Regions from separate parts of the Homo sapiens genome. Here region 1 is linked to region 2. Evidence: fine-mapped expression QTL. Tissue or cell type: monocytes after interferon gamma. Region 2 holds a variant in brackets; the other region holds the start of a gene. All regions are shown on one strand. Distances are from middle to middle.

Region 1 (4,220 bases), 86 kb before region 2:
CAACTAGTACTGCAACTGTAGATTTCCTATCTTAAAGAATTCGGAAGGTATGAAAATTCATCATTAGCCTACTTTTTAAAAGTTGTACCCATCTAGCCATGCATGGTGGCTCATGCCTGCAATCCCAGTACTATGGGAGGCCAAGGTGGGAGGATCACTTGAGCTCAGCCTGGACAAAATAGCGAGACCCCAGCCTTGATTAAAAAAAAAAAAAACCCAACAACAGAAAAAAACAAACATGTTGTACCCATCTGGTCTTTGCTCTCAGCTCTATCGCTTAAAGACCCACAGATGCCTATTTTTGCCAAGTTCTTGCGTATTACACCAAATAAAATACATGACCCATTCTCTGAAAGAGACACTTACGCTGTATAAAGCACAGGTTTGAGAAACCTCCCTTTCCAAAACAAGGAAGTCTGATACATCTGCTTACCAGTGTAACACCCTTGATCATGTTCTGTACATGACTACAAATAGTCCGAACGGTAGCCAGTTCCTTTCTGTTACCCCACCATTTGTCAACCCGGAGCTGTAACAGAACAAAAAATGTATTCTTTCCAGAAATATGCAGGCTTAAAAGACAACAGACCACTTACCGAATTACTTTAAGATTCTAGAATTAACCCTTATCAAAGCACATGGTTTTCAACTGGAAAAATCCAACCACCTATAAAACCTCCCAACAGTTAAGCTTTGTAGAAGTTGCAACAAACTTCCCTTCTGGAAAATTAAATCATCAGGTTTAAATGACCTACTGCCGGTTCCTGTGATTTTTACAAAGCAATCACTAGGAAAATAAACCAAACTTCTAACACCATTAAGACGTGTCACTGATGACCACTATTACATTTGAGCTTTATATAATTGGCTGTGTTCAGAATCTGGTTTTTCAATTTCACTGAACAGGCTGGTATTCTGGACAGCAACATTTAAAGCTGAAGCACTGAACCTTAATTCGAAAATTGTTAAAGCAACCAAATGTGATGCTGTTATAAACCACCTTCCAACGAGCAACTGAATTATCAGAAGAAAAACCCTCACCCTCTTTTTTTTCTTTCCAAGAAGGCTGAGTTCTACATTGATGTGATTGAAGTCCCTCCGCAGGGTTCCTCTGGGGCCCTTCACGATAACTGTGCGTCCCTTCAGAGTAATGTCGACTAGAAGAGAGAACACACTCGTCAGGCCACACAACGCTTGGAACGTGCAGTAAAGATGTAAGTAAAAGACATCAAGTCTCATACCATTTTCTGGAATGTCGACAGTCTGATTGCTGAGAATAGTCTTCATTCTGAAACACAAACACTGGGGGTGAGGCCGACGCAAGGCCCGTTTTTCCACCAAACTACGCCGCACAGAGCTCCACTCCTACTGGAGACTGCCAGGCGGAAGTTCCAGACAAGATGTCGGAGGACGGGAGACCGACAGCGGGCCCCAGTGTGTCCCAGCCTGGAAGGAGCAGCCCCAAAGCGAGAATTACGAGGCCCAGCAGTCGAACTCCCACTCAGCCCAACCCTGGAAGTCCTATGCGGGCGGTGCCATCCCGGCAAGACTGAGGGGCGGGAATAGGCCAAAAAGCCCACAACAGGATTCGCATCTGGCGCCGCCAGGCTCATATGGCGCTTGCCGAGCTGGGGGACAAACAGGACAAGGTTCCGAGAGTGGGAGCCGCGCCGCAGCCTTTCCCAGAGCAGATGGTTTCAGATTCCCAGTACCCCCACGAGCACAGAAACATCCTTACCTCGCAGTAGACGCAGCAAAGAAAGAACGTCTGTCGTCATTACGTACTTGTATCGCGTAAGGGGCCTGCGTATTGCGTCATGAGTGCGCGACGCACGTAAGGCTAAAGCAGCCAATCGTGGAGCAGCTTGGCTGCTTGTCATAAATGGAGCGACGTAATTTCGACCTGTCCTTTCCCGGGAGTTAGCGATCCCTCAACCCCTGCACTGCGCTAGTCCTAAAGAGGAAATGTCTCTACGCTGCGGGGATGCAGCCCGCACCCTGGGGCCCCGGGTGAGCGGCGGGGCGAACGGGTTTGGGCGTGGGGTGGGGGGATCCTATCCCTTCAGAGCGCCCATGCCCAATAATAAAGGCCAGTGCATTTACTGAACATTTACTACTAGCCAACGGCAGTTTTAAACGTTTTTCGTGTAATCTCATGTAATTATCCCGCCAGCCCCATGATATAGAGTCTCTGGCATCAGTTTGTTTGCAAGTCTCTCTGGGCCAGCACCGAGGACTTATTTTCTGCTTAGAGTGGTTTGTACCCTATATTTATGGAGCACTGCAGTGAGCACCCCACATAGCTATTCTGTCTTGGACTCTTACTGTGTGTGAGACACCACTCTAGCCGCAGAGAACACAAACCTGTCCGCTAGGCTTCAGCGGCAGACATTGAGAAGTGCAGTAGCAATCGTGCAACACCCTAACAGGCACTCTTTGAGTTGTCGAAGGTTCTTTTGAGATACATGTGCAGACTCGTGGATTTTGTAGTGTTTTGGCTATCTCATACACGTTTGTGTTCAGATGTAAAAGCCGAATACCATGATTTCTTATGTTCTTGACTGCCACGTTCAAACACAGAAACAATGTAACCTAGAAAGTAAAAACGTTCATCCTGGCCAACATGGTGAAACCCCGCCTCTATTAAAAATACAAAAATTAGCTGAGCGTGGTGGCGTGCGCCTGTAGTCCCAGCTACTCGCCAGGCTGAGGCAGGAGAATCGCTTGAACCCGCGAGGCGGAGGTTGCAGTGAGCCGAGATCGCGCAACTGCACTCCAACCTGGGCGACAGAGCGAGACTCCATCTCAAAAAAAAAAAAAGAAAAAGAAAGTAAAAACGTTAGGCTTGGTTTTAACCTTCCAGTTGTCTGAAACTAATTGGGCATTATTAACCTACGTTTCAACAATTATTCAAAGCTCGAGAGATTTATTGCACACTTCACTTTAAACGCCCCTGATTCAAGTCAGGACCAGAACAGTTTTAAACTGTGGCACCTTCTTCAGTTATTGCAGTTCAATCTTGTTGAAAGACAAACATCTAGTTCCTGGTAGGTGGAGTACATGAAAGTGTGATATATGTTAGTTCCAGAGATTTTCGGGCCGGGTGCGGTGGCTTACGCCTGTAATCCCAGCACTTTGGGAGGCCGAGGCAGGTGGATCACCTGAGGTCAGGAGATCGAGACCATCCTGGCTAACATGGTGAAACCCTGTCTCTACTAAAAATACAAAAAAATTAGCCGGGCGTGGTGGCGGGCGCCTGTAGTCCCAGCTACTCAGGAGGCTGAGGCAGGAGAATGGCGTGAACCCGGGAGGCGGAGCTTGCGGTGAGCCAAGATTGCGCCACTGCACTCCAGCCTGGGCAACAGAGCAAGACTCCGTCTCAAAAAAAAAAAAAAAAAAACAGATTTCCAAATCTATTCTAAACTCAGTAGTAAACAGTCAACTCTTACTCTCTTTTAGGTTTGGTTCCTTCAGTCATCTTTTATATTCTAATGCCCTAGAATACTAGAGCTCCTAGTTTGACATAATTTCTGAATCACTTTTTTGGCTTTACCCTTCCGTTTAGGTGTTATGATGGGTTAAAACTAAATTATTACGGACTCCACTAAATAAACGTCATAATTAACTCTTTCTTTAGGTATTTGGGAGATATTTTTGCAGCCCAGTCAGACCGTTAAGCTCCTTGCCAGATAAAAAAAAGGAACTCCTACAGAATGGACCAGACCTTCAAGATTTTGTATCTGGTGATCTTGCAGACAGGAGCACCTGGGATGAATATAAAGGAAACCTAAAACGCCAGAAAGGAGAAAGGTAATTGAAAATTTGAGATAATTTTAACGTCCCGTTCCTTTATTGTGCATTATTTTCAGATATAACCAAGCCCTAGAATCTGTTTTTAATATCAGACTTGTTAAATTTAGCTAAAAATCATTAGAAAGATGTGATAACAGAACTAGATAGAACAAGTAAGCAGATGAAATTTTTGGAATCTTTCTCTTTTCTCTTGCCCTTACTATGTTACACTGCCATCTCCCCATTTTCTACCCAGCATCCAACTTCTTCAGAGTAAAGATTACTGCTTTGCTACTAGTCTGTTAGATCTGGGTTAGTAGCTGTTGATGATCTAACTTGTGCTTCTCCTAGTCAATTTACATGTGACCTATGGATACCTTGCCTTAATTTAAAAGAATGATGGAATTTTATGTAGAAGGTAGATTGAG
Region 2 (4,179 bases):
TGGGGTCTCTATTTCTGCTACTGAAGGAGGCGGTTCAGATGTTTCTGCTACTAGAGGGGGTGACACAGGCCAATTTTCATCCTCCTGCTCCTGTTTATTATTTTTAATTGGCGCTGTTGAGAGAACAGAAAGATTCTTTCAAATTTTTTGACTCTGAACATGACTCCTGCTGTCTAGCAGAATAAGAAATGAATAATGGCAGGATGAACTAAACTCCAAATATAAAAAAGAAAATAGCCAAATTCTTCCCCCATGTTACCCTGATTCAGAAACTTCCCGTTCCCAGTACCTCTTTAGGGCACTGACCTTATATTAGCTGTCAGCAGACTCGTCGCAGGGTTTCTCATTCTCGTTCTTCTTGTCAGTGTCAGTTTCTCTGCTCCAGCAGACCTTCACTCACGTCCCTGTCCTAGGTGCCAGTTGTCGCTGTTGGTTGTTATGGGAGTGAACGAAGGGGGATGAATGCAGAAACGAAGACAAAGACAAAAAGTATTTTTGGAAGAAGGGGTCAGGGGGCTCCTTCTAGTGAGCAAGGGCCCTGAGCTTCTACAGCCCTTCGTATTTATTAGGTAGAAAGAGCAGGGAGGGAGAGGTAGCAGTTGGTCAGTTGCTTGATTTATCACAGGTATACATAATTGCTTTCTTTGTACAACAGGCTTCAGATGTTCCTATAGATAATCACAAGGAACACTGTGCTTGGGGTGTGACTGCCCTCAGCAACCCTTCTGGCAGCAGACACAGTTGTTAGTTTTCCAACATCCTGCTTTCATGAGAACAGTTTTCTATTTGCTCATATAGCCTCCAGTGGTATACTGAGTTGGTCACGACCCTCATTCTTTCGGCCTGTAACAGGCTCATGCCTGTAATGCCAGCACTTTTGGAGGCCGAGGCAAGAGGATAGCTTGAGCTCAGGAGTTGGAGACCAGCCTGGGCAACACGGTGAAACCCCATCTCTGCAAAAATTAGCCTGGTGTGGTGGGGTGCGCCTGTAGTCTCAGCTGCTTGTGGGGCTGAGGCGGGAGAATAGCTTGAGCTCCAGGGGTCGAGGCTGCAGTGAGCCATAATGGTGCTGCTGCATTCCAGCCTGGGTGACAAAGTGAGACTATCTCAAAAAAAAAAACGGCTGTTAGATAAAAATGAAGACAAACAACATTTGCAAGGATATAAATCTTAACCCATTTATTGGGGGTATAGGCTCTGGTGTCAGATTTCCATCTGTCCTGTATTTTGTAACCACAAAATTGTCCTGGCTGGATTAATTGTAAGGAAGTCCCTTTAAACACATCTAGACTTCCAAAGTTTGTTTACATACTAATTAGTTGTCATGAAAAGCTGCATTCAACCCAGGGTCTGAGATGCCTTTTGTATATGAAAAGTGCTTCTCTTTCTGACACTGACTGAATTACATACATAACAGATTCATTTATTTAAAAACAATTTAAGAGGCTTTTTCTATAATGCTGAACCTGCTGTGTGGTATTTATGTTTAATTCTGGTCAAATTTTCAAAACTAATAAACACTGCAATTCAAAACCATTAATTATCAAGCATAGACCAAGTATCTGAGGTTATGAGCACATATTTAAGAGGTTAGACTCTGGCATTCCAGACATTGCAAATAATACTTTTCTCATTTCTAAATTTCCTAGAAACAAGTGGAGATTTGTAAAAGGAAATAATACTCTTTAAAACATTTATTTTTGACTCAGGATCTGGCTCTGTTGCCCTAGCTAGAGTGCAGTGGTGCCATCATCACAGCTCACACAATAGCCTGGAACTACTGGGCTCAAACCATCCTCCCACCTCAGCCTCCCAAGTAGCTGGGACTGCAGATGCAGGCCATCATGTCCCGCTAAGTTTTATTTTATTTTTGTAGAGACAGAGTCTATGTTGCTCAGGCTGGTCCTGAACTCCCGGCATCAAGTGATCCTCCCACCTCCCAATAAAACATGTACTGATGGCCAGGCACTTGGCTCACGCCTGTAATCCCAGCACTTTGGGAGGCCGAGGCGGGCAGATCATGAGGTCAAGAGATCAAGACCATTCTGGCCAACATGGTGAAACCCTGTCTCTACTAAAAATACAAAAATTAGCCAGGTGTGGTGGCACGCGCCGGTAGTCTCAGCTACTCCGGAGGCCGAGGCAGGATAATTGCTTGAACCCCAGAGGCGGAGGTTGCAGTGAGCCGAGATCGTGCCACTGCACTCCAGCCTGGCGACAGAGCAAGACTCTGTCTCAAAAAAAAAAAAAAAACCAAAAACCAAAAAATCAAAACCAAAACCATGTATTGATATCAAAGTTTTTTTATCCTGGCAGGGCACAGTGGCTCACGCCTGTAATCCCAGCACTTTGGGAGGCTGAGGCAGGTGGATCACGAGGTCAGGAGTTCAAGACCAGCCTGGCCAAGATGGTGAAGACCCGTCTCTACTAAAAATACAAAAATTAGCCAGGCGCAGTGGCAGGCGCCTGTAATCCCAGCTACTCGGGAGGCTGAGGCAGGAGAATCGTTTGAAACCAGGAGGGTAGAGGTTGCAGTGAGCCAAGATTGTGCCACTGTACTCCAGCCTGGGTGACAGAGTGATACTATGTCTCAAAAAAAAAAAAAAAAAAA[AAAG/A]AAAAAGAAAAAAGAAAGAAAGTTGCTTTATCTTTAAAACTATATATATTGTTTTCACCCCTACATAGTCCTTGCCTCCCAGACATCTCCTCACTAACGTCAGTAGACAATTTGGCATCTGATGGTTTGAAATAGTTTCTGTAATCAAATCCTGAATAAAATCCATTTTAAAGCCTATAGAGAGTTAAGAAACAAGTATAAAAATTTGTTGAAGTGTTTATTGAACGAACATAATACATTTGTCTGAGAAGAGATACGCACACTAAAGTCCCCTACAAGCAACTAATGGGAAAAGATCACACAGGTAACTCCAATTTTTAAAAATATGATCATGAAAGATAATTGTAGTTGGTGTTTATGGAGCATCTTTTGGAGGGGGGGGAACCCCCAACAACTCTACAAATTGAGATCCAGAACAGAGAAAGTCATCAGGTGAAATGCCAAGACCAAAAAACTTATTTTATTTGAATTCCATTTTCTGAGAAGAAAACTAGTATTGCAGCAGAGTCATTTAATGAAAACTTAACAGTTTCACTGAGGATTCAGATATCCGTTGACATGTACATGACAATCTTTAGATTAAATCATAAAAAGTTGACTGTCTCCAAGAAATTGTTATTTCACAAATTTATCTATTTTAAATATAACACTGAAGTTATTACATAAACACTGACGTCAAAATCATGCCAGAGCAGTGTTACTATTTTTACATGTATATGAGTATTCATGACCTTTAATGTCTGGACACATTCTAGGTCACAGAACAGAAGCAAATTTTCACTTTTGTGTGTTTTTGGTACAGTGACATGTCTGGTTCCTTTTGAGCTAGATATATCTGCTTAAATAATTAACACTATTGGATATTAGTCCCTCAAAGTAAATGTCTATTTTACCTGGTATTCTAGGAAGAGAGAGAGAAAGAAAATAACCAAAGAAATGTGACTGCAATCTAATTTCCAAGAGAGAAACTCTACTTCTGAATACTGGCCCCATACTGCATATTTTATGAATATTTTTCTCACAACTTTTCTTAAAACTTAAGTTCTCTCTTAGGAATGTCTTTAGTTAGGTCTTACAAAGAAACTGTTTAATACACAATGTTAACATCTACTAGGCAAAAGATGCTTGCTTCTCTTCCCACAAAAGCCAAACAGAAAACACAAAGTGTTACTAACGTTTTCTATTTATTCATTAATAAAAAGTGCATAGTACAAGCCCTTTATCCCAATCCAAGTACTCAGAAAAAGATTAACAACAGACCCTGGATGGCACAGACATAATTTGTTTGGCGTGATTTAAACATATAAAATCAGTAATTAACATTTAGCATATCACACGACCACTTTTGCTTTTAACAAACTAATCTTCACACATGGTAACAAATACCTATGATTTTTCATTTAGAAATATTATAAGAAGACTAAACTTACTATTGCAACAACAAAAATTTAACCCATTAAACTAGAAACTCTCTTCATTTTTCCTTCTTCAAATTACTGTTTTGTGTCTTAAACTGAGTTGGTCAAATTTGAGCACATAATTCATGTAGAGTGACAGACTTTCAT

Direction of the effects. Alleles are on the strand shown, and positions count from the first base shown. SD is a standard deviation of normalised expression in the study named.
For the expression in monocytes after interferon gamma of the gene that starts at base 1,770 in region 1, allele AAAG in region 2 goes with a lower level than allele A (large effect, 1.1 SD a copy in Fairfax 2014).

Evidence for each region. PIP is the estimated chance that this variant, and not a neighbour inherited with it, causes the effect.
Region 1: RPL9 starts here. The variant in region 2 is fine-mapped to the expression of RPL9 in monocytes after interferon gamma (Fairfax 2014, PIP 0.91).

Annotation. Positions count from the first base shown.
Region 1 is chr4:39,457,153-39,461,372 of GRCh38, forward strand. RPL9 (ribosomal protein L9) reads right to left here and starts at 1,770. Exons shown (of 8, transcript NM_000661.5): 1 at 1,739-1,770; 2 at 1,242-1,288; 3 at 1,042-1,157; 4 at 434-529. The coding sequence starts at 1,287. LIAS (lipoic acid synthetase) reads left to right here and starts at 1,904. Exons shown (of 11, transcript NM_006859.4): 1 at 1,904-2,010; 2 at 3,638-3,810. The coding sequence starts at 1,966. RefSeq lists enhancers at 771-1,521, 1,717-2,011, 2,382-2,431 and a silencer at 1,952-2,001.
Region 2 is chr4:39,543,518-39,547,696 of GRCh38, forward strand. It overlaps SMIM14 (small integral membrane protein 14), which reads right to left. Exons shown (of 5, transcript NM_174921.3): 5 at 2,819-4,179. All of the region lies in intron 2 of UGDH-AS1 (UGDH antisense RNA 1), which reads left to right. Among named protein-coding and RNA genes, the nearest start is that of UGDH-AS1, 18 kb to the left of the region's middle. The variant AAAG/A (reference allele first, on the strand shown) is at 2,612.